Linked DNA regions of Homo sapiens. The protein of the gene in region 4 purifies or fractionates together with the protein of the main gene of each other region. This does not show direct contact. Each region holds a gene or a part of one and is shown on either strand. Other genes may lie near its edges.

Region 1 (2,939 bases), on a different chromosome or scaffold from region 4:
CACGACTCATTGTAACCTCAACCTCCTACACTCAAGCAATCCTCCCACCTCAGCCTCCCAAGTAGCTGGGGCTACAGGCATGTGCCACAGCACCCAGCTAATTCTTTATTTTTTGGAGAAACAGGGTCTGTGTTGCCCAGGCTGGTCTCAAACTCCTGGGCTCAAGTGATCCTCCTGCCTTGGCCTCCCAAAGTGCTGGGATTACAGGTGTGAGCCATCGTGCCATCACATGTGTGAGCCATCGTGTGAGTATAGGCCACACAGCTATACTTTTATCTTTAAAAAATGCTTTCACATTTTAGGTGGTTTTCAGTAAAAACAGCTAAGAAATATACCGTTATAAGACAATAGTGGCAGAGACTCACTTCTTCACTGATCTTTAAAATAAACCCAAACTCTTCTATGACCTTTGGTACGTCATTCCAATTAGGAAAAAGGGATATGAAAGCATTCACGAGTTGTGTTTCCAGAAGCTATTAATAATATACAAAAAACAGATACAGAGTTTTAGATATTATTTATTTTAAACTAAAGCAAATAACAAGTTAAGTGAAATTTGCAGTTTTCACTTTGCATTGTCTATTTAAAAGGCCTAGGTATTGGAGCTGAAATGCTGAAGAGGCTAAGTCAGGTATGTATTACAATTAGTATTGATATTCTATACATTAACCTTTTCTTAATAAATATTCACAGGGCATAAATTAAATCATTAATCTCACCATTTGAACATAACCCCAACATATACTTCAAATTTCTACCCAAATTAAACTGGATTTTCAAATCAGATGATCATATACAGTATATGAATTATAGTCAATTAAAATTGATTTATATATAATCCACAACCACACTATACACCCTTTTTGCTATCAAGGGAAAGTAAGAAGGAGGGAGATTAGAAAGCATTTTTATTCAAAAACACAGGCTCACAGTATGAATATTACAAGACTATAAAAGCAAGATCTTCTTGTATTTTGGAAACATATGAGAACATGTGTTCTTTTAGGTACACCTTTTCTGTATGATAAAGGCTTTGCAAATCAGTTTTGAGATTTTAAAGAGGGCTTTAAAGCTCAGAACAGTGAGACTTTTTTCTTTTTACAGCTATAGAAAAGTTCAAAAGGTAACTACTATATTTGGAAGTATTATTCACACATAGTGTCTTGCATAGAGTAGACCTTCAATAAAATATATGTGTTAACGAAGATTATACTTTCAAATGAAAGTAATATTTGCTTGTTTGTTTTTAAACAGATAGCCATCACAACTCAATGTAACTGCATGCACTTTCTTGTCGTCATTTGGAACCAGGCTTCTATCAACTACTATACTAGTCGAGGGGCTTTAGACCTTTCCTCTGAGGAGGGCTGGCATCTCTTCAGGTTTAACAGAGAAGAACTCCTGGACATGGCATGGGAAGAATGAAAGAGGCTTTGTAACAACTCATCCCAACACAGCCTCCAACATTTGACTGTCACCTGAGTCTAACAGCAGTTTGACTTTGTTGTACAATACAGCAAGTGATCATCACATTCTTGTTTGAGCAGATCTTTTATTTTGAAACAGATTTTGTAGCTCTAGTCAACTTTCCATTATCCAAACCAATATTCTAACGGCTAGTAGCAGTAGTGATAATCCAAAAGAGCAGATAATTTAAAAGTCACTTATACTTAGCTTTGCGCTATTTTTTACCTATCATATTTCATCAAAATTAAGGTGCTTTTCACAATTTGACATATCTGATGTCGGGATAAATGTAATGATCAACTGGCAGCATTTTTTGTTTGTTTGTTTTTAGAGGCAGGATCTTGCTATGTTGCTCAGGCTGGTCTCAAACTTTTGGCCTCAAGCAATCCTCCCACTTCAGCCTCCCAGACATAAGCAACTCTGCTCAGCATTTTTTTTTAAATTAAAGGTATATGATATGCCTTAGATTTGATGAAATATGGGTGTTTGAATATATTCAGATCTGAGGTTTAAAAAAATTCATTTCAAATACTGGAGATAAATTCTGAAGAGCTTACTTATGAAAAACTAGCAAGTAAACTGCTTCCCTACCTTGAGCAGCTTAAGTACCACTGCCTCCTTGACATCATCCCAGTACTACATTCTATCTCTGAACATCCATAGCTCTTTGGTTGTACTTATCTTAGGGAAGATACCACATACAACACTATATTTCTATGTTTCTCTCTTTCCTAGTAGAGTATAAGTCCTTTGAAATAATTCTAACTTTTGTGTCCTGTGCTGCAACCAGCATAGCAGAACGTGTGAGTTCCTACTACCTACCAGGCACTTCATGGGCATAGAAACTACACAAAAATTATTCAGTGATATCCACAAGGAACCTTGTCTGTGAGAAAATATTAATTACATAAATTGTGTAAAGTACCATATCTGTAAATACCAGCTATCACTTGCTAGTTTTTCATAAGTAAGCTCCTCAGAATTTATCTCCAGGATTTGAAATGAATTTTTTAAAACCTTGGATCAGATCTCAAACACACTCATATTTCATCAAATCTAAGACATATTATATACCTTTATTTTTTATTATTTATTTTTTGAGACTGAGTTTTGTTCTTGTGCCCAGGCTGAAGTGCAATGGCACGATCTCGGCTCACTGCAGCCTCCACCTCCCGGATTCAAGTGATTCTCCTGCCTCAGCCTCCCAAGTAGCTGGAATTACAGGCATGAGCCACCACGCCTAGCTAATTTTGCACTTTTTGCGTGTTTTTAGTAGAGACAGGGTTTCACTATGTTGGTCAGGCTGGTCTCAAACTCCTGACCTCAGGTGATTCACCCACCTTGGCCTCCCAAAGTGCTGGGATTATAGGTGTGAGCCACCATACCCGGCCATACCAAATACCTTCATTTTTTTAAAAAAGGCTGAGCACAGTCACTCATGTCTGGTTGGCTGAGGTGGGAGGATCGCTTGA
Region 2 (3,102 bases), on a different chromosome or scaffold from region 4:
CAGTGAATGTACCCTCTGGGCCTACTTCCTCACCTGTACAGCACAGACACCGGGACTCGGCCTGCAGGGGTTTTGTGAGGATGAACTCACTCTGAAATGAGTTTGAAACAGCACACGGCACAGTACCTCATACACAGTATTGCTAAATGCTCATTTCCTCTCTGCTGTCCCCCAGCACCCCATCCCCATCCCATTCTCCCAGCAGGTGAAATCTCACTGCCCTGATTTGTAGGCTGTCGGGACAGACTTCAAAGATGGTCAGCAAGGCCAGATATGACCCACGGGTGGGCTGTCCAGATTCCTCCCCAGGGGGCAGGCATCCCGGCCGGCCTCTGCATCACCCCATCTGGGGGAGCCCCAAACCACTATAGCCGAGGAAAAGAACACAGAGGCCTCAAACTCCCCCACCTTTCACTCCATTGTGGCAGGGATTCAATCCCATCCTGGGGACACTTAGGCTTAGCCATTTAACTCCTGTTAACAAAGCAACAGGCTAGCACTTGGTTGCAACATGTTTAATTTCTGCTGTTCACACTGGACACTGCATCATACTAGTGTCGGCCCCTGAGGGCACCCCTTCCTCGCCTGCACAAAGGAGGACGAGAGATGAACATTCAGAGGCAGAAAAGGGCAATAAAAAAAGAGCTGTGTATGTGACCTCCAACTACTCAGAGGTGGGGGAAAACAGCCCCATCTGTCTTGCACTAAAAGGCTCACCAAGGGCAGGTGAGGGGCAAATGGTAATACTGGGAGGGGGTAACACAAGGAGAAGCGACATGAGTACACCAAGATGTCAAAGCTGCGACGGGCTGGATGAGGGAGCCCCAAGAGGGCATATGCTCAGGGTGCCAGCCGGCTGCTTTTCCTTGTGACAGCCTTGCAAGGAAGCTGTGAGGCCAGGACACTAGGCCAGTGGCATCCACACTGCGTCCTTCAGGAGGCGAGGCCTCTGCGCCTCATTCTCCAGGAGGGAAAACCAGGGACCACCCCGAGCTCTCCCAAGTGGCAGGAGTTCAAATCAGGGCCAGTGGCGAAACCAGGAGGCCTGCCTGACCAACTGCCCTTCACATGATCTCTCTTCAATCTGTTGCCCGGGGCCCCGACCATCTGGGCAGAAGCGGATGTGCTGACTTCACTTTCTTTTGTCCTCTACACACACGTGCAGGCGTTAAGGAGGCAAGCAGGTGAGGGGAAAGGAACACAAGTTGACCTGCCCAGCCTGACAATTCTGAAGAAAGACTGTTTCCCGGGGCATGAGGAAAAAGAAGAAAAGCTGCGGCAGAGTCTCTTCGGAGGCAGCACCCAAGGCATCCGTTGTACTCGGGGCCCAGCCTTTCCTCCCCTCTGAGTCCTCCACCAAGTCCACAGCAAGCAACGATTCACCAGAAAAAAACAGAAGACACAGGAACAGAAGAGCTGCTGATCACTGGCTTTGGTGCTTAAGTGATGAGGCATTTTCAGTCACACTCGCACTGATCTGGCTCCTGGGAGGAGACGCCACGGCATCCTCCCAGGGTGAGGCTCTGATGAGGCTGCACATGGACAGGGTCCCCTCTCAGGTGGGAAAGGCAGCATCCTGCCATTGGAGGCATGGGTCTGGAGAGTTTCTACCCAATTCCTCCCTCAATCATACCTGGAGGTGACAGCTACCCCCACCACTGCTCCTCCAAAGGCCTCGAGATAAAAATCCCTGAAAAGGGGGCAGGGGTGCTTCCAGGTCAAGCTGTGCGGCTTCCAAACTATTAGCTGTTGTACAGGGGTATCACCCGGGTGATCGCCTGTCTGCAGATAGGGCACTTCTTGGGCTCTGGCAAGGCGCGGTAGCACTCGGTGCAGGAACAAACGTGCCCACACTCCAGAAAGACGCAGGACTTGAAGCTGCTCAGACACACTACACAGGCGCTCTTCAGACTCTCCCTGTCCTCAGGCTTGGCTCGGCTCAGCAGCTGGGCCTCATGCTCCTGGAACTCCTCCTGCATCTGCTTGAGGCGCAGGCGCTCCTGCCGCTGCAGATACTGCTTCCGGAGAATGAAGAAGAGGGTGGCACATGTGGCAAAGCCAAAAACCAGCGCCAGCACCTTCCAGAGCCTGACGCTCGACTCCTGCCTCTGCAGCAGGCTGTCGAAGTCCTGGCTGCTTAGATAGTACTGCATGCCTTGTTTGGGCGGCTGCAGGCGGACAGAGTTGTTGTCCAGGACCAGTTCGCCAACCCCTGTGAGGGTGGCCCCCACCTTCAGCATCTCCTCGGTCTCTTGGATGCCTTTGGGCCGCTCACCGCTGATGTAGTGGCCGATGACATCGGTGAAGGACTGAATCGAGGGGTGGAACTTCTCATACACAGTCTCTAGACCCAGATCCACTGAGTCCAGGGGCTTCAGCACTCGCACAGCCACATCCACGCCATCCTCGTGGGGCACCAGGTCAAAGGGCACTGTGTTGGTCCTCTGATGAATGATCTTTGAGCAATCATTCCTAGAAGAATAAGAGAACTAAAGATACAGGGTAGCAAACAGCAAACACCCAGGCAGAACTGGAGATCAACTAAATGTGGAGGACAGCATATGGTCTGAAGTAACTGGAAGAAGACAGTAAGATCACTATCTCCAGTTGCCTCCTAACAAGGAGGCTCCATTTGTAGGTCCTGGGGCGATATCAGTGGGCAACAAATAACCGCCACAGACTATCATTTCCCTTTCCACTGTAAAACAAACATCTAAAACAAAACTCACTAGGACCAGTTGGAAAACTGATATTTCATATGATGGCACAAAAGCATTTTAGGAAATACTGAAATCACTGATTCAGTGGTTCTCAAACTTCAGTGTGCCTAACAACAGATTCCAGGTCCCTGATCCTGGAAATTCTGGTTGGATAAGTCACCAGGGACTGACTTATCCACTTCAGGGACTGAAGGGAGCTCAGAAATCTGCATTTCAACAAGATGCCTCGGTGATTCCGACATAGGAGGCCCACAGGCTACACACAAGAATATGACCTGCATTAAGAGACTGGGCTTCAACCTGTCTCAGGAGAAGCTGAAGTCACGGCAACAGCACCCAGGACCCCAGCATTTGAATAGACCAACTGCAAGGGTTTTGGCCA
Region 3 (3,500 bases), on a different chromosome or scaffold from region 4:
AAGAAAGGTTAAGGTGCCAACAGCAGAGAGACTGGAATCTGGGTTGCCTTCAGGAGAGGACAGCCCCACTCTAGCCATGAATCCAGGGGCTCCCCAGGGAGGGTGGAGAGACCAGACTTGCAGAGAGGGGCCTGGGGAGCCTCTGGTTTGACCTCAGTCATCATCGATGTTGTCGCAGCTGCTGCAGATCTGCCTGTTCCGTGTCCTTCCTCCTCCTCCCCCGACCTCTTTGCTGTGTCTCCTCCATTTGTCTCCCTCCTTCCCTTGTCATCACTGTCCCTGACCCCTCTCGTCCTCTTGCCTGCCTTCTTTGACTGTCTTTCCCTCCCTCCCATCATCTTTCCTCCTCCTTCCCTCCTGCTCTCCACCCTCCTGTTTCCCAGCTTATAAACTGCTTCGGCTGCTGGATAAAAATAGCGGTGGCAGCGGCCAGGCCGGGAGCCAGGTAGAGTCTGAGCAGGCAGGGGGGCCGCGCAGGACTGGCCTGCTGGGCCAGGGGGCTGGGTGGGGGTCAAGTTGAGTCGTCCTGAGGGGCAGGGTGCAGAGGGGGTCTTACTGGACTCCTCCACTGGCCTGTTCTGTCAGCCCTGCCCCCTCTCCCCCTAAGAGCCTGAGGAGGCCTATGGCAGGGCCAAGACAGGGCCTCACACTGTTCCTGCCCCCAGCAGGCCCCTGAGGGAGGGAGCTGTCAGCCAGGGAAAACCGAGAACACCATCACCATGACAACCAGTCACCAGCCTCAGGACAGGTAAGGGGTAAGGGGCTGGGCTGTGGATCCAGGGAATGGGTTTTCAGGGAGCTGGGTGTGGTGTCCTTTGGAATTGGGGGTTGCCATTGCTGGCTGGCCTTCCAGCCAGGTAGCTATGAGTCAGGTCTGCATCAGGGGTGGGGACCCCGTGTGCCTTGGCTGGGTGCTGGCTGGGGTGTCTGCGGGAAGGGCAGGGTGCGTGGGCAGCAGTCCTTCCCTGGCCTGTCTGTGTTTCCACTGTTGCTCTCCAGCCAGTTAGCGGCTTTCGGCTCCTCCCGCCACCACTGTGGGGAGATACTTGGCTGCACCCCTCCTTCCAATGCACATCTGGCAGAACTGCCCTGGGGCCTCTGCCTTAGATGACCTGGCCCACCCTGGTTCTTGATCTGATCTTCCTCTCAATTCCCTGCCTCTGGAGCCTGTGAACTCCCAGTCAAGTTAGACTTGCAGTTATGACTGTGAATATGTATTTTGGAAGAAGAGGCTGTAGCTTAATTCAATTTCTCAAAGGGATCTGGGACCCAAGAAGGCTGAGGAAGTGATCCCTGAGATCCAAAGCTCCTTCAAAGCGTCAGGCTCTGTCCTGCCCTCCAACTCAGGCCCCAGAAACCCATCACGTCTGCCCTACCCACCCCATCTCCCTCCTGTGCCAAAGGCTATGAAACTAGGCCACTTTTGCCTGTGGGGGCTTTGAGCATGTAGCTTAATCTCTCTGGGACTGTTTTTCCACCTGTAAAATAAGCTAAAAGTATCTACTTCCCAGGAAGTGGATCTAGAAGTAAGGGAATTTAAGGAGGCATGGCAATAAGTCCAGGCCCCAGGTTGCTTCCCTGCCTCCTGTGCTCCATTCCCAGGCTGCCTGCCCATTCTGTCCCCACCTCCGCTCTCCTGTGGGCAGTTCCCTGAAGGCCTCGCCGGCTCCATTTGCCTTATTGCACAGCTCAGTCATTTCCCAGCGTACTCCCCCCAACCCCGATCCTCTGTCCTATGTGACTTTGGGAGTTTTTCCTTCTGCTCTGGGCCTCCGAACCAAGCCTTTAGCTTCTCCAAGGGAAGCATGTATGTGAGGGGGTTGGGGGGGCTGCAGTTGCATTAACTCGGACCTGCTCACGTGGTGTGCTCACCACGCCATCCCTGTATGAGGCCTGCCAGCGGTCCAGGCTCCTGCACTCTGGCCAGGCCTGTCTTCTCACTGCCTTGGGCTTTATCCCTGCCATCTCTGAAGAGAGCTGGTGTTGGCTCTGGGGAGGGTGTGCAAACCCAACTGGAGATCTACATGGGCCGGGCTGGGGTTACTCAGCTTTCAGGCAAGGCCTATCTGGGAGAAGCTGGCGTGACCCGGAAGGGCCTTGAGGTATAGGGCTTGGGGCATTGCCCTGGCCAAAGGTGGACAGTCCTTATTTACACCCTGAGGCCCAGATGGCCTCCAGTGGCCCCATACCTCCTGGCCTGCCCTGGGTGGTATGAACTACAAAGTTCTATTTGGCCAGGAAGAAAATGGCTCTAAGGCCCTCTCTTCACAGCGGCCCTGAGGCACCCTGCCCACCTGCCCTGTAGGTCCAGAATAGTATGGGAGTTTCTTAACTTCAGAATCCTCTCTGGGGAGTAACACAGTCCCTGACCAGACAGCATAATTACTTCCAGCCTGCCTGGTGGGAGTGGAAGACACTTGCTGCTTGCTTTCTCACTCATCCACCCACCCCCTGCCCTTCGGCAGGATTTCCAAAACCATCTCCGGATGTGTGGGTCACACTGGTTCCCAGCCTGCAGAGTCCCCCGAGCCTTCCAGGGCTGATAACCATGGTCCTGTCAGCCATGCCATTCAGTCCTATGACCCTGACCCCATCCCCACCCCAAATTCCAACGAGCAATGTACCCTTTTCTCCCCCCACACCCATAAGAGGACACATGCAAACGGACACAAACACAGACGCCCTGTGCCCTGGGACCTAGAGAGACTGACAACGGACAGGGGCTTTCCTGGGGCTCATTGTGGAGTGGGGCAGGATGGTGCGTCATTTGGCCCATCTTTCCTCCTCCATTGCAGATACAAAGCTGTCTGGCTTATCTTCTTCATGCTGGGTCTGGGAACGCTGCTCCCGTGGAATTTTTTCATGACGGCCACTCAGGTGAGGCTGGAGGGACTGGGCTCCATGGGGCAGTGCCCACTGTGCTTGCAGGATCTGACTCTGTGCTGGTAGGCACAGGGAAAGAGATTTCAACACTCCTCTCTGCAACCCCTGCAGTATTTCACAAACCGCCTGGACATGTCCCAGAATGTGTCCTTGGTCACTGCTGAACTGAGCAAGGACGCCCAGGCGTCAGCCGCCCCTGCAGCACCCTTGCCTGAGCGGAACTCTCTCAGTGCCATCTTCAACAATGTCATGACCCTATGTGCCATGCTGCCCCTGCTGTTATTCACCTACCTCAACTCCTTCCTGCATCAGAGGTGAGTGCCCACCCCCTCCCCAGCCCCCAGCCTGACCCTCACTGTGTCCTGCACCCCCTTGGCTGAGCCCCAGCTTTGCCCACTTGTCTCTGCCACCCTTGGCCTCTCCCGGCAGGATCCCCCAGTCCGTACGGATCCTGGGCAGCCTGGTGGCCATCCTGCTGGTGTTTCTGATCACTGCCATCCTGGTGAAGGTGCAGCTGGATGCTCTGCCCTTCTTTGTCATCACCATGATCAAGATCGTGCTCATTAATTGTAAGCTGGGCCAGGAGGGGGCCTATGGGAGGAGGCATGCCCAACTAC
Region 4 (3,500 bases):
AAATCATTTATGCCAGCATGTAATTTATCTCATTAGACCAGTTAGCAAAACAGTGACCATACGTTTAAGTGTGTTGGTTATCACACTTGAATCTCTAGTCCTGACTTTTGCGGAAACAAAGTGATGTTATTTAATCAGATGGAATATAAGAATGTCAAGTGTAGGTGGGAAGGTTGGTTGGTTTTGAAGGATTTGGTGAAATATGTAGTGCTCTGTTAATGCTTCTTCTGTGTTTATTTGGTTCCTTAGGTAAAGCCATTAGCTTGTTAGCAATCATGATTCTGGTTGGGGACAGCCTGCATAATTTTGCAGATGGCCTAGCCATAGGAGCAGCCTTCTCATCATCATCCGAGTCAGGAGTGACCACTACGATTGCTATCTTGTGTCATGAAATCCCACATGAAATGGGTAAGTTCAACAATGGAATTACTGTTTCTGGCCTGTTGAGAAAGAAATAACATCTTTCCAGCTATGGTTTACTAGGATTCTTTTTCTAACCTATGACTTAAAGATGAATACTTTCCTTTTATAATTTATTTAAACCATAAGAAGAGGAGGACTAGAAAAATAACTCCTGTACCTTGGAATAAAATCCAGTTAAACTCCTTTATGATGTTTCCCAGGGCCAGAAATGACTCTATTTGGATTCCAGAGAATTCCATATGGGAGACAGTCATTCAGAGAAATATTTTAAAGAATTTTGATGGGGACTTTAAAATCTGCATATTAAATGTGAGAAAAATATTAGGAGGGGAACTTTATCCATCATGTCAGCACATGGGCCAGTAAGATAAAATAACATTTAAATTAAAACCGGCCGGGCGCAGTGGCTCACACCTGTAATCCCAGCACTTTGGGAGGCCGAGGCATGTGGATCACCTGAGGACAGGAGTTCAAGACCAGCCTGACCAACAGGGTAAAACCCCGTCTCTATTAAAAACAAAAACTTAGCCAGGTGTGGTGGCCCAGGCCTGTAACCCCAGCTACTTGGGAGGCTGAGGTGGGAGAATCGCTTGAACCCAGGAGGTGGAGGTTGCAGTGAGCTGAGACTGAGCCATTGCACTCCAGCCTGGGCAACAGAGTGAGACTCCATCTCAAAAAGAAAAACAAAAACAAAAACAAAAAACCAAACCATGGTTTCATCAACCTGACTTATACAAAATGTTTAAAGCCAAGCCTAGCATTGAAATGACAGGTGTGTGGTGGCAGATTCTCATAAATCTCTTTTTCTGGATAATCTTAGTTGCCCTGTAACTTTTTTTCTTTTAATTTTTGTGGGTACATAGTGGTTGTATGTATTAATGGAGTACATGCGATGTTTTGATACAGGTATGTAATGCGTAAGAATCATATCATGCAAAATTGGGTATCCATCCCCTCAAGCATTTATTGTTTGTGTTACAAACTATCCAATTATACTCTTTTAGTTATTTTTAAATGTACAAATTAAATTATGATGACTGTAGTCGTCCTGTTGTGCTATCAAATACTAGGTCTTATTCATTCTATTTTTTTTTTTTTTTTTGTAGTGATTAACCATCTTTACCTCACCTCCACCTTCCCCTACCACCCCACTACCCTTCCCAGCCTCTGGTAACCTTCTTCTATTCTTTAACTCCATGAATTCAATTGTTTTGATTTTTAGATCCCACAAATAAGTGAGAACAATATAGCCCTGTTCTTTGCCTCCCAGGACGCAAGATGGGTTAGAACAGACGTTTCTGAAACAGACCCAGAAATAGTAGAGGCTGGTCTGGCATAGGCTCCCAAGGGAGAGGGCTCTTCGCAGTCTCTCTGCTTCCACTTTCGCACCTACATTGCCCCTAGGAAACGCTTGCCCTCTTGTGCTTGGAGTCCGTTGCTCAAAGTCCTGACACTGACTCATTATTGACCTATCCTTCTTGGAGCAGTTTATCCAAGGTCCTCCCTGGGCTCATTAAAGTGCACCTGGTCTGGAAGCCATCCCCTATCTGTGGTCCTGAGTTTTGCTACTGTAACAGGGATGTAGCCCCCAGTCCTCAACCCAAAGCCACAGGGCAGTGTGACCGTCTGCAGCAGGCCAGCAGAGATGTTTCAAGCCCCGTTCATGGGAACAATTATGCAATGGAACTAGAAAACTGGGTCCCCAAGCTGTCTATTGAATTTTAGTCTCAATCCCCCAAACTAAGAAGTAGATGTTCTCAGATTTACTAACAGGTCAATCTTCTCTTGGAGGGAAGGCATGGAGAGAATGAGATCATTTTCCTATAATCATTTTCTAAAGGGAAAAATTTGTTTCCTAACCAACTTTTACAATGCTTTAAAAATCTCATATTAAGTAGTTTTCTCTCCCCACAGCAGTTTCTGCATAAGTAAATAATAAAAGCCCATATAGTGTCATGATTTCACCTGGCAAATTTCCAGGCCCAAAGATTTAGAAACCCTGGGACAGTGAGTGACTATTTTCCATTTATCTAAGTTGGAAATGTCAGAGGATATCAAGAACTCAAGAATATGTCACAGACCTCTCTGTAGATACAATCTTTAGGAGCAGCCAAAGGAATGGAACTCTTGAAATGCAACTTCCTAATAGTACGATGAATGGGCTATGAATTCTAGAGAAATATAGGAAAGCATTTTATTTACTGATCACTCAACTCTACCTATAAAATTGGTTCCAGTGCTGACATTCGAAATAGCTAATAGTGCGTTACTTTAGCAAAGGCGTCTTCCATTAAATGATAATTATATTTTCCTTTCCTCTTAAACTTCAGGAGACTTTGCCGTGCTCTTAAGCTCTGGACTTTCTATGAAGACTGCCATCCTGATGAATTTTATAAGCTCCCTAACTGCCTTCATGGGATTATACATTGGCCTTTCCGTGTCAGCTGATCCATGTGTTCAAGACTGGATCTTCACAGTCACTGCTGGGATGTTCTTATATTTATCCTTGGTTGAAATGGTAAGCTTGGTGGCTTTTCTATTTGATTTTTCTAAGCACTGAAAATGTAAAACAGAGAAAAAAAACAGTAAAAATGGAAGGATAAATGAGTAGAACAGAAGAATTTATAAAACAATATAAACCATTAAGGAATATTCTTTGTACTCCAAGAAAGTGCATTCTGGGCAGAAAGAACATAATTTGGGTACAGAAAATACTGACATTTTCTGTAGTGTTAAAGTGACAGGTGTGTGATAGCAGTTGCATGTAAGACTTTTTTCTTTTAGTGATTTTAAGTGGAAAGAATGAAATGTTCATAATCTTCAAAAAGTAATCATCAGCTCATTCGATTCCAGCTTTGTACCTATATATGATGCCTGTATTTCCAGTTGAAAATGAAAAGTTCTGTCAATCAGCCAGCTATTTTATTTATACAATGCGAAAGTTCTGTTAAATAGCCAGCTATTTTATTTATACAATGGAAAATAATTCAACTGAATTTGTCATTGAATTAAATCACTGTTTGACTTAATTAACCAAATGTGTTTTTTAAATAATGATTACGTCTTTGAAGTTTGAA
Region 5 (3,500 bases), on a different chromosome or scaffold from region 4:
AACGTCCTCCCTAACTACCCCTCCCATTTCACAAGCTTCCCTCCCTGCTCTGCACACTTCTTGACACTGAATCTGTGGGTTTTATTTATCAACAGTGTTGTAAAATTATCTGTCTACATTCCTAAGTAGAAAATTGCCTTCTCTAGGTCAAGGTCAGTTTTTTACCTGTTGTTTCCCTGACTAGCACAATACTTGTATACACTCAATGTTAACAACTAAATAGATCATAAAACTAATTTTGGTATTAATAATGCACTAATCCACAGTGACAAACTATCTGTCCCAGAAGTTATTCGTAACAGTATAAATTTAATCATATATTTGTCATTTGGAATACTGATTCCTTTATAAAATAAGCCCAAAAAATAATACCTCGTTTCTTCACTGATGAAGGAGGAAGGAAGCTTGCTGGCATGGACCTCAGATGAGAATTGTCAGTGGCTTCTAAGAATGGTTCTTTCAGGTGATCTGCAATAAATCCCACCAACCCAAAGAAATGGGTCATAACACTTCAATTTCAAAGTATCACATATTTTCTTATCAAGTATAAACAAATGCCTACTATACATCTGTTATGGTTGTTACATATATCCCTTGTGATAAATCAAGAACTAATTATTTCATTAATAAAATTATTCATTAAGCACTTAGCTGTTAATGCCAAGGAATGACTAAGGAATCTAAGAGAACATTAATATAAACATACATACAACTGAATGAAAAAACAATGAGGCAAATTCAGATGAAATGAAACAGGGAGAAAACCACCTACCTTTCTTCCAAATGTTAACAGACTACTGTCATATTTAATATTTAATGTATTATAATCAATATATTCTTGTAATAATCAGATGAAATACACTACCAATTCACAAACAGCAGGAGGGTATGTACACTAGAAAAGGAATTCGAGGCCAGCCCTACCTCTCTGAGCTTCAATTTCTTCATCTATAAAAATGAAATGGTTTGATCAGCTCATCTCTGAGATACTTCCAAACAAGCTTTAAATTTCTGTGCTACTTATATAGAAAATGAACTGTCATACAATTCCCAGTGTGATCTGGGAATAGAGGAGCAGAAGCCTCTGTTAAAAATTATTCCATTCATATTAAGGAGTAGAATTTTGGTAATCTAACTAATATTAATATAAACCTACCAATGGTTTCTCTCCATAATTTCAGGGCACTCTACTCCAATTAACCTCTGGATTGGAAAAAAGAAAAAAAAAAGAAAAACCACCACATTTACAATAAAAGAAAAATAAATGCTAAAAATATCAGGTAATGGATGACCCTTTTCATAAATATTCATAATTTCCCCATCTGAAAGCTTCAAAAGTGGCTTAACTAAATGAAAATTTATTGAAATGTTTCCATGTACATGTTGAAAATGTCATTATTTAAAATCTAAGTTTGCCCACTTCATTTCACTTCATTTCTGTTAATAATTTGTTACTAAAGTGGTTTCACTTAGTTTAAAAAATAACTTGAAAAAAACGGAATATTTAAACAAAATGTACTCATACCAAAAATAGTTTCCTATTACTCTAATCATATCATAATTGACAATGAGGGTTTCCCTTCAATTTTATCAAAATTCTTAAATTTTTTTTACTTTTCTTTCCTATATCATCCCATTCTCAAAAAAAGATCCTAAAAACTGTACCATGAAAACTTTAGATTTGTGAAAAAGTAATTTTTATTAATGTTTTTACAAAGCTATCTAAATCTCATGAAGCCTTTATATTCAACTCAAAACTAACATGATCCTGAAGATCCCTTACAATTCTCACATTCTGCGGACAGGACATGTCTGTTCAAACAGGCACATATGAGCCAGACAGACCTGATATCAACCCTGGTTCTGCCATTACTAATAGTTTATACTTGGAGGAGCTAACTAATCTCTCTGAACCTTAGTTCTCCCATCTGTAAAATGAGAATAATGATAATGCCTACCTCACAGAGTGGTTACATAGATTAAATGAAATTATGTTTGCTAAACACTTTATAGTAAGCATTCAAGAAATGGTAGCTGTCATTACTACAAAAACCAAGCACAAAAATATTTAGGTATAAGAGATAAAGAATTCAGAGTCAGATTCGTGTCCAGAGACTACCTTTAAAAATACCATATATGCCAATAAAAACAATTATTCTAAAAACTATGCTATTATGTGACAAAAACATATCAAAACTTTTTTTTTTTTTTGAGACGGAGTTTCGCTCTTGTTGCCCAGGCTGGAGTGCAATGGCACGATCTCGGCTCACTACAACCTCTGCCTCCCGTTCAAGCGATTCTTCTGCCTCAGCCTCCTGAGTAGCTGGGATTACAGGCATGCACCACCACACTCGGCTAATTTTGTATTTTTAGTAGAGACGGGGTTTCTCCATGTTGGTCAGGCTGGTCTTGAACTCCCAACCTCAGGTGATCTGCCCACCTCAGCCTCCCAAAGTGGTGGGATTACAGGCATGACCTACTGTGCCCGGCCCGAAACTTTTTTTTATTAATTTGGGAGTTTGTTTTGCTGTTTTTAAGTGCTAGTTTAAATAGTTCAGTTCCAGAATATCTGGTTGACTGGATGAATGTTTCACCTGCCATCCTTATCTCTGGCCTATTTTAGACACAGCCTTTGTAAGAACTGAAGATGCTATTTCTTACCAGGTATTTGTGGGTAAATTTTTTCAACCATGTATTCTCTTAAATTCCTTGGCATTTCTCCTCTAATGTCAACAAGTACTCGAGTTTCACTGGATGAAATCTGGTAGATGAGAACTGGACTCGGGTTAGCTAAAATAAGTTCAGCATGATTTGCTTTAAACTGTGGTGCATTCTAAAACAAATAAAAAGAAAATGTTTTAATAATTTTCAAATTTCAAGTTTCTTTTATTGAAATTACAATAACACACTCCTACAGTACCTTCATAAGAAAGCCAACAAAATGAGATGATACAGAAACTTTATTGGAGACCAGGCTTTTCCTGAACTTGGAGAAAAGCCCATCTGCAACAACAGTCAGTGGAGCATGGAGTTCCTATAACAGAAATGAAGACTACTCAGTTTAGTAGTCAGAAACACACAGTAAAAAAAGCCATTCTTAAAAAATGTGCGTGAAGAGATTTAGATATATTATCAGATAGCATTATAGAGAGTAGTTGAAGATAATACTATTGAAGAAACTGTTACGTGGGCTTCAGATAACGCATGACCAGTGTTTAGATACTTCCTCTGAGTCCCTGAGGATCATCTCCCTTTGTAGCCCTCCCATGCAAACCATCTGGGATTACTCTCCACTTTGACAGACAATGGGGGAAACAACTACAAGGCAGGCATGTAACACAGAGCAGTCAATCTCATTACAAATTCAAGGGACTAGCCAGATTCTTTCATTCTAAAATTTCCTAACTTCATATAGTGCTTTTAGTCAGCAGCTAGGGCTTAGAAGAATTTTTGTACAAATGACTACATGTATTTATAATACTACAGTATGAGCAGAGAAA
Region 6 (3,500 bases), on a different chromosome or scaffold from region 4:
GGGCTTGAGTAAGGAGGGATACCATTTCCTCCAGACAGCCCAGTCTAAAAAAATTGTATCCAAATGGATTTGGGTCCCGAGTCTGAAGAGTAAAGGTTCAGAAATGGAGGGAAACCTGTCTTTGAAAATAACTACTTCAAAAACTATAAACACCCTCAAGCCTGTAATCCCAGCACTTTGGGAGACCGAGGCAGGTGGATCATGAGGTCAGGAGTTTGAGACCAGCCTGGCCAAGATGGTGAAACTCCATCTCTAATGAAAACACAAAAATTAGCTGGGTGTGGTGGTGGACACCTGTAATCCCAGCTACTTGGGAGGCTGAGGCAGGAGAATCGCTTGAACCCGGGAGGTGGAGGTTGCAGTGAGCTGAGATCGTGCCATGGTACTCCAGCCTGGGCAACAGAGCAAGACTCCATCTCAAAAACAAAACAAAACAAAACAAAACTATAAACACCCCACTCTCCATATCTAGTACTGCTGAGATTTTAAACAGTCTGACTCCTTAAAATGAGAATGGGGAAAGCTGTTCAGTATATTTTGTAACACAAGGCAAAACCCAACAGAACTAATTTTGAGTTACAAAATATCACTATCATGGAACATTTTCCATCCCTCACCTAATCATACCAGGAATACCGGGGGAAAATAACCAGTTTTTCAGACTGGTTCACAGTTTACTTGATAACTTTTTATAATTAAAAAAAACCAGGCTGAGCACGGTGGCTCACACTTGTAACCCCAGCACTTTGGGAGGCCAAGGCGGGTGGATCACTTGAGCCTAGGAGTTCCAGACCAGCCTGAGCAATATAGCAAGACCCCGTCTCTACAAAAAATACAAAAATTACCTGGGTGTGGTGGTGCACACCTGTAGCCCCAGCTACTCAGGAAGCTGAGGCAGGAGGATCACTTGAGCCTGGGAGGCAGAGGTTGCAGTGAACCAAGATGGCACCACTGCTCTTCAGCCTGGGTGAGAGAGCAAGACCCTGTCTCAAAAAAACACTGAACATCTACTACATGCCGGATGCCAAACAAGTACTTTACATGTACTTTCTTGTTCTGTTTTATAATACTTTAACCAGAATAAGAATCTTTCTCTGCACTTTCTCAACTCAATAGCATCCCAAAATGTAAAAAGCATATTACCTAAGGGGCTGTATTGTCAAGGGGAAATAAAGGGAGACACAGTTAAAGAATCAGAAGACAAAATTATGCTCATCTGACATGCAAGCAGAAGCTCACACTTCAGTAAAAAATGTATATTAGATGACTGTGATTTTGGAGAAAACACAGATGAAACAACTAGAAAATAGGTCAAGACAACAGATGCTGAATGTCAAAATGGGTTGGGGGGCTGGCAAAGAGGGCACAGTTCTCCCTTCTAGACCATAAGTGCCTCTAAGGCAAAGACGATGTTTCCTATCTCCTCCCTTCTGTTTCATCACCTGTAAAATGTTTTCTAAGGTTTTCTCTAGCTTTACATTATGTGCATCAGCTGTTATAAGAGCTAATCGTAATTGTTAAGACATAGAACTGTAAAGAGGCGGGGGAAAAATGGCTAGGGCAGTGGTCCCTGTGCTGAACCCTAGCTCCTGCATCTAGATAGAAGAAAGGCGGCTGATCTTTAAGAAGCACCCCACGCTAGGCAGGCATTTTCAGATAGATTAAACCTATTTGCAAAATGCGGTAAGATCGCTAATTAGTCATCACTGCTTTCAGCTGAGAAGAGTGAGGCCATGGATTAACTAACATTCCAAAGCCCACAGACAGGCAGAGCTGAAATTCAAACCCAGATTTATCTGATGATACTGAAACCCACGTAGGAAGTATACACAAGCAAAGTTGTACATGAAGGGATTAACCTTGTGTTTGGATACAATAAAGAATTATCTAGCTAGAATGGAGAATTCATACAGGGGAGAAGACCAAGATATGTTTCAAGGTTCAGGGTGAAGCCAGTTCCAGGGGCAATAAATATTAGCATGAGGGTTTTTTTTTTTTTTTTTTTTTGAGATAGAGTCTCACTCTTGTTGCCCAGGCTGGAATGCAACGGCGCGATCTCGGCTCACCGCAACCTCTGCCTCCTGGGTTGAAGCGATTCTCCTGCCTCAGCCTCCTGAGAAGCTGGGATTACAGAAATGCATCACCACGCCTAATTTTTTTATTTTTAGTAGAGATGGGGTTTCTCCATGTTGGTCAAGCTGGTCTCGAACTCCTGACCTCAGGTGATCCACCCACCTCAGCCTCCCAAAGTGCTGGGATTACAGGCGTGAGCCACCATGCCTGCCGGGTTTCATCATTTTTAAACCAATGAATAGGTACCAGAGTCTGATTTAGAAGCAGGGGAAGTTTCCTAGAAACGCCTTAAAACTCCTCCTATCCTTTACTTCTTTGACCCCTTTTCACCAGCCCCTTAATGCACTAGCATTTAAGGGCTAGTGCCTCCCAGAATTCCACCTTTACCATTTTTACCTTCTCCTCTTCTCTTCCTGGGTGATCCTATCCAGTCTCTGGCTTCAACCTAAGTGCCAGTGTCTCCAAAATTTGCAATCCTGTTTCTCAATATATTCCTAAAAACCAGCTTCTCATTTTCAGTAGCTGACAGAGAAGCTTCATCTGAAATCCCATAACAATGTATGTACATTTCTCCTCCTCTGAAATCCAATTTATCTTCTGAAACTTGTTTTTCTTAAATCTCTCTTAATGGCAACAACATGGCATCAACAAGGAACCAGAAATGGGAAAGACCAGGCTTCAATTGCTCCTCTGGCACTTGATAGCTACAAGATCTTGGGCAAATAAATCAATGTGAGAAGACTCGGTGACAATATCTGTTATCTGCCTCCCTCATAAAGTTGTTGCATTAGTCAATTTTCATAATGCTATAATGAATTGCCCGGGACTGGGTAATTTATAAAGGAAAGAGGTTTAATTGACTTACAGTTCAGCATGGCTGGGAAGGCCTCAGGAAACTTACATTCATGGTGGAAGGTGAAGGGGAAGCAAGGCACCTTCTTCTTAAGGTGTCAGGAAGGAGCCGTGCCGAGTGAATAGCAGGGAAGAGCCCCTTATAAAACCAAAGGATCTCATGAGAACGAACTCACTATCAGGAGAACAGAATGGGGGAACCGCCCCCATGATTCAATTACCTCCACCTGGTCTCTCCCTTGATTAGCTTATGGGGATTACAATTCAAGATGAGATTTGAGTGGGGACACAAAGCCTAACCATATTAGTTGTTATAAGATATTTAATACTGGGCTGGGTGTGGAATCACAGCTGTAATTCCAGCACTTTCAGAGGCCAAGATGGGAGGCCAAGGCCTGATCCCAGTAGTTGAAGACCAGCCTGAGCAACTTGGCAAATCCTGTCCCTACCAAGAATATAAAAATTAGCCGGGTGTGGTGGTACATGCCTGTAGTTCCAGCTACTCGGGACACTGAGCATGACAGGTCAAGGCCACAGTGAGCTTGAACATGCCACTGCACACGCCAGCCTGGGTG
Region 7 (3,500 bases), on a different chromosome or scaffold from region 4:
GAAATTTTCTTTTAATTCATGGTTGCGTTGTCTGGCAGGACAGAAAAATATTCATTCAGTAAGTGAATTTTTGTTGCAGGCTTAAGTTTAATAGCTGTTTTTTTTTCTTTCTGCTCAACAGACTGCATTGTTAGATATCAGTTGTGTTAAACATATCATTTATGTGGACAATAAGGCTATCAATAAAGCAGAGTACCCTGAAGGATTTGAGATTCACAGCATGCAATCAGTAGAAGAGTTGGGATCTAACCCAGAAAACTGTAAGTAAAGCAGTAAAAACAATTTTATTTACCTATTCCAAGTTTGTTATTTTGGTAGGTTAGGGAAACAAATGACATGAGTAAATCCACAAAAGTTCTTTGACTGAAAAAAAAAAGTTCAAAAATCTTTAAAAACCATCAAGACCATATATGATTAAGATTTTCCCTCCATTTCTCCTCAAAAAAAATAAGTTAGTAAATTTCACTAAGTGGTTGAGATGTAATCTGTGGTTCAGACTTCATGGCAGTTGCTGCCAAATGTTTCTTCATTTTTTAAATAACCCACTATAACCTTCCAATTTGGGCCTCATAAAAGAAAAATATTTCAGGCCTTCCATTCAGTAAACTTTCTGAAATAAATGCTTAATGCTAGTTATCTTAAGGATGTTTCAGAGGATGCAAAGCTGTTTACCAAGATTAATGCTTGGATTTATTTTACCACTGAGGTGGTAGTTGGTATTTCATTTGAAACAAGTAAGTGTACCTTGTAGCAAAATGTCAGTTGGCCATCAGGGCAGAGAGTTGAGGAAATTAATACTCCATTTGAAGAGTTTTCTTATTATGTTTAATGCGATGGTCAAAATACCATACTATAATGAGAAAAGGATTCATTTTTGCAGGAGAAAATGTTGGTCGAACCTCTACTCAGCTTCTGAACATTTTACCATTAGAGAATGAGCATGCGTTTATAATAACAGGTGTTATTATACACATCTGCCATGTGTCCAGAATGGCAGAGAGTCAGATTTTACCCTGCTTGCCGGCAAACAGATGAGCCTGCAAAACTTCCTGGTGCCATAGACTTTTGGGTCTGAGATGAGGGACAGTTTTTTACTCACAACAATAGCAGTAGCCAGAGTATCATATCAGCATTTGTGTCATAAGAGAGGAACTCTGAGCTTAAAGAGCCTGAATATCTTATTATCTTATTGTACTGGACAGTAAGCATGCCTGCTGTTTGCTCTGGGGAGAGACACTATCTCTGTGCAAATATCCTTGTAAAGATAGTCTGGAACAAAGTCAATGTCTCTGCTTGCAAGATGTGCAGAACATGAGACCCATAGAGAATTGTTTTTCTACACTAGGTTGACCCTGTAAGATTGGGATAAACTTGACTGAGAAGTCCTGATTGGTAGGGATCAGTTACAGTTCTGCTGATTGACCACAAAGGGTGTTGGCAGCAAGCTAAGGGGTCAGCAGTCTTCATAATTTTGTGTGAGCAATAATGTAATAGGCCACATATCCCACTTAGTTCTACTCATGTCTGCAATAGATAGGATACATATGTTTTTGTGGTACAGACAGTTATTGTGATGCCACTTTTTTGCATATTTACTTAAAAGTGGGCAGAAGCAAAGTATCACATGTGCTTAGATTAAGAAGAATTTAGCTACTGCTGTTGCTTTGGTTAATCATCAGAGGAAATATGCAGTCCTTATTTGCTTGGTTTATAAACTATGACTATATCTTTAAAAAGCATTAAAATTAGCCAGTTTAAGTGTAACTATCTTTGTTTCAGTGGTATAGCTCACTGTTTTAAAAAAATGTTATTTTAACTGGTATATAAAAATGTAAATAATTTGTGTAAAGATTTTTAAATGTGATAATCCTGTTAAACTTGTATTTCATTCTGATGATATATATGTGGCTTCTTAGCCATTTTGGTATATTCTCGGAAGGAAAAGTGGTTACTAGGCTAGCACTATACACTGTCTTGAAAGTGGAAGCTCCAGGGTTCTGTTTAAAACTTATCACCTTCAAATGTTAGCATTGAAGTCACCTTAAAGATCAGATCCAGTGGTTTTCAATCAGGGGCATATATGAGAATCACTTGTGGAGCTTTGTTCTATCCCAGACATATTGAATCTGAATTTTCAGAAAGGGGGTTCAGAAATAATATTTTATTTAAGTTCTGCACGTGATTCTGATACCCACTAGTGGTTAGTAACCACAATCTGTCCAGCTGTCTTATTTTAGAGATGAGAAACTGAGGCCTAAGAAGTTTATACACATACTCTGTCCTCCTGATACTCCAAAGTCCCAGAAATCTTTCCACAACATTGCTCTGTATACAACACTGTGGAGAGGCAATGCACAGACAGAGATTAGGTTAAACATCCAGAAAATGGGCCAAATTGAGTCCAAAATGCTCACTGTAATCAGAATTTGATAAACATTTTTGTTTTCTAGCCCAGGCTGGAGCACAATGGTATGACCATAGCTCACCATAGCCTCAACCTGCTAGGCTCACCCAGTCCTCCTGCCTTATCTTCTTGAGTAGCAAGGACTGCAGGTGCATGCCACTGCATCCGGCTAACTTTTTTAGTTTTTGTAGCGACAGAGTCTTGCCATGTTGGCCAGGCTGGTCTCGAAATCCAGGGCTCAAGTGATCCTCCCACCTTGGCCTCTCAAAGTACTAGGATTACAGGCATGAGCCACCTCACCCAGCTCGTTTTGATGATTTAAAGCAAATACTGTCTATTGATAGCTTATCGTTATGCAAAATCTAAATATCCTATTATTCTTTAGTAATTTAACTTTTGAACTGAAGTAAATGTGATATTTTTCATTCATTCATTTAGTGGGCATTCCTCCAAGTAGACCAACGCCTTCAGACATGGCCATTGTTATGTATACTAGTGGTTCTACTGGCCGACCTAAGGGAGTGATGATGCATCATAGCAATTTGATAGCTGGAATGACAGGCCAGTGTGAAAGAATACCTGGACTGGGGTAAGATAATTCTTTAACTTTCTTCTTAGAAATCAGAGTTCATGTTCAGCATTCTCTAAACTCAATCTATATTAAAATGATAAAGCTCTTGGTATTTCTAACTTCAAATGCCTTTTCAAGAATGGTTAAAATATTTCTCTTATTTTGTTTTAGACCGAAGGACACATATATTGGCTACTTGCCTTTGGCTCATGTGCTAGAACTGACAGCAGAGATATCTTGCTTTACCTATGGCTGCAGGATTGGATATTCTTCTCCGCTTACACTCTCTGACCAGGTGACAAACTTTTCAGTATATTGGCATGATCGTATGATGCTGCATGGTTTGGCTGAGAACATATTACTAGGACTCGAGATATTTTAATTCAGCTAAAGCTTTCTCCTTGACCTCAAAATAGCTTCCATGAACAATATGTAGCTATAGGAGATTACCCTGTAGATTTGTTAGCATTGCTTTAGCTATATATTTTAAAATTATTTTTTTTTTCTTTTCTTTTGCTCTGTCAC

What was found.
Region 1: the proteins of SLC39A12 (region 4) and APOOL purify together in Homo sapiens (affinity purification with mass spectrometry; 2 studies listed by BioGRID and IntAct, with this or other methods). This does not show direct contact.
Region 2: the proteins of SLC39A12 (region 4) and MUL1 purify together in Homo sapiens (affinity purification with mass spectrometry; 3 studies listed by BioGRID and IntAct, with this or other methods). This does not show direct contact.
Region 3: the proteins of SLC39A12 (region 4) and SLC29A1 purify together in Homo sapiens (affinity purification with mass spectrometry; 2 studies listed by BioGRID and IntAct, with this or other methods). This does not show direct contact.
Region 5: the proteins of SLC39A12 (region 4) and SQLE purify together in Homo sapiens (affinity purification with mass spectrometry; 3 studies listed by BioGRID and IntAct, with this or other methods). This does not show direct contact.
Region 6: the proteins of SLC39A12 (region 4) and ADPGK purify together in Homo sapiens (co-immunoprecipitation; 3 studies listed by BioGRID and IntAct, with this or other methods). This does not show direct contact.
Region 7: the proteins of SLC39A12 (region 4) and ACSL4 purify together in Homo sapiens (affinity purification with mass spectrometry; 3 studies listed by BioGRID and IntAct, with this or other methods). This does not show direct contact.

What each region holds. Positions count from the first base shown.
Region 1 is NC_000023.11:85,090,877-85,093,815, reverse strand, and holds the end of APOOL (MICOS complex subunit MIC27 precursor), read right to left. Parts: 3' UTR 1,426-2,939; coding exon of another isoform or gene 1,255-1,425; 3' UTR 632-1,254; coding exon of another isoform or gene 591-631; 3' UTR 501-590; downstream 1-500. Other genes in the region: SATL1 (spermidine/spermine N(1)-acetyltransferase-like protein 1), read left to right, coding at 591-631, 1,255-1,425. UniProt on the Homo sapiens protein: Component of the MICOS complex, a large protein complex of the mitochondrial inner membrane that plays crucial roles in the maintenance of crista junctions, inner membrane architecture, and formation of contact sites to the outer membrane.
Region 2 is NC_000001.11:20,498,948-20,502,049, forward strand, and holds the end of MUL1 (mitochondrial ubiquitin ligase activator of NFKB 1), read right to left. Parts: intron 2,473-3,102; coding exon 1,743-2,472; 3' UTR 501-1,742; downstream 1-500. UniProt on the Homo sapiens protein: Exhibits weak E3 ubiquitin-protein ligase activity. E3 ubiquitin ligases accept ubiquitin from an E2 ubiquitin-conjugating enzyme in the form of a thioester and then directly transfer the ubiquitin to targeted substrates.
Region 3 is NC_000006.12:44,226,595-44,230,094, forward strand, and holds part of SLC29A1 (equilibrative nucleoside transporter 1), read left to right. Parts: intron 1-415; exon of another isoform or gene 416-445; intron 446-665; coding exon of another isoform or gene 666-719; coding exon 720-748; intron 749-2,795; coding exon 2,796-2,877; intron 2,878-2,994; coding exon 2,995-3,197; intron 3,198-3,312; coding exon 3,313-3,452; intron 3,453-3,500. UniProt on the Homo sapiens protein: Uniporter involved in the facilitative transport of nucleosides and nucleobases, and contributes to maintaining their cellular homeostasis. Functions as a Na(+)-independent transporter.
Region 4 is NC_000010.11:18,000,418-18,003,917, forward strand, and holds part of SLC39A12 (zinc transporter ZIP12 isoform 1 precursor), read left to right. Parts: intron 1-249; coding exon 250-408; intron 409-1,368; exon of another isoform or gene 1,369-2,753; coding exon 2,754-2,941; exon of another isoform or gene 2,942-2,979; intron 2,980-3,500. UniProt on the Homo sapiens protein: Uniporter that promotes Zn(2+) import from the extracellular space to the cytoplasm across the cell membrane. The transport activity is temperature dependent. May play a role in neurulation and neurite extension.
Region 5 is NC_000008.11:125,008,505-125,012,004, reverse strand, and holds part of SQLE (squalene monooxygenase), read right to left. Parts: intron 3,035-3,500; coding exon 2,921-3,034; intron 2,834-2,920; coding exon 2,662-2,833; intron 469-2,661; coding exon 373-468; intron 1-372. UniProt on the Homo sapiens protein: Catalyzes the stereospecific oxidation of squalene to (S)-2,3-epoxysqualene, and is considered to be a rate-limiting enzyme in steroid biosynthesis.
Region 6 is NC_000015.10:72,777,259-72,780,758, forward strand, and holds part of ADPGK (ADP-dependent glucokinase isoform 4 precursor), read right to left. Parts: intron 2,957-3,500; exon of another isoform or gene 2,939-2,956; intron 1-2,938. UniProt on the Homo sapiens protein: Catalyzes the phosphorylation of D-glucose to D-glucose 6-phosphate using ADP as the phosphate donor. GDP and CDP can replace ADP, but with reduced efficiency.
Region 7 is NC_000023.11:109,677,758-109,681,257, reverse strand, and holds part of ACSL4 (long-chain-fatty-acid--CoA ligase 4), read left to right. Parts: intron 1-121; coding exon 122-260; intron 261-2,842; coding exon 2,843-2,993; intron 2,994-3,146; coding exon 3,147-3,270; intron 3,271-3,500. UniProt on the Homo sapiens protein: Catalyzes the conversion of long-chain fatty acids to their active form acyl-CoA for both synthesis of cellular lipids, and degradation via beta-oxidation. Preferentially activates arachidonate and eicosapentaenoate as substrates.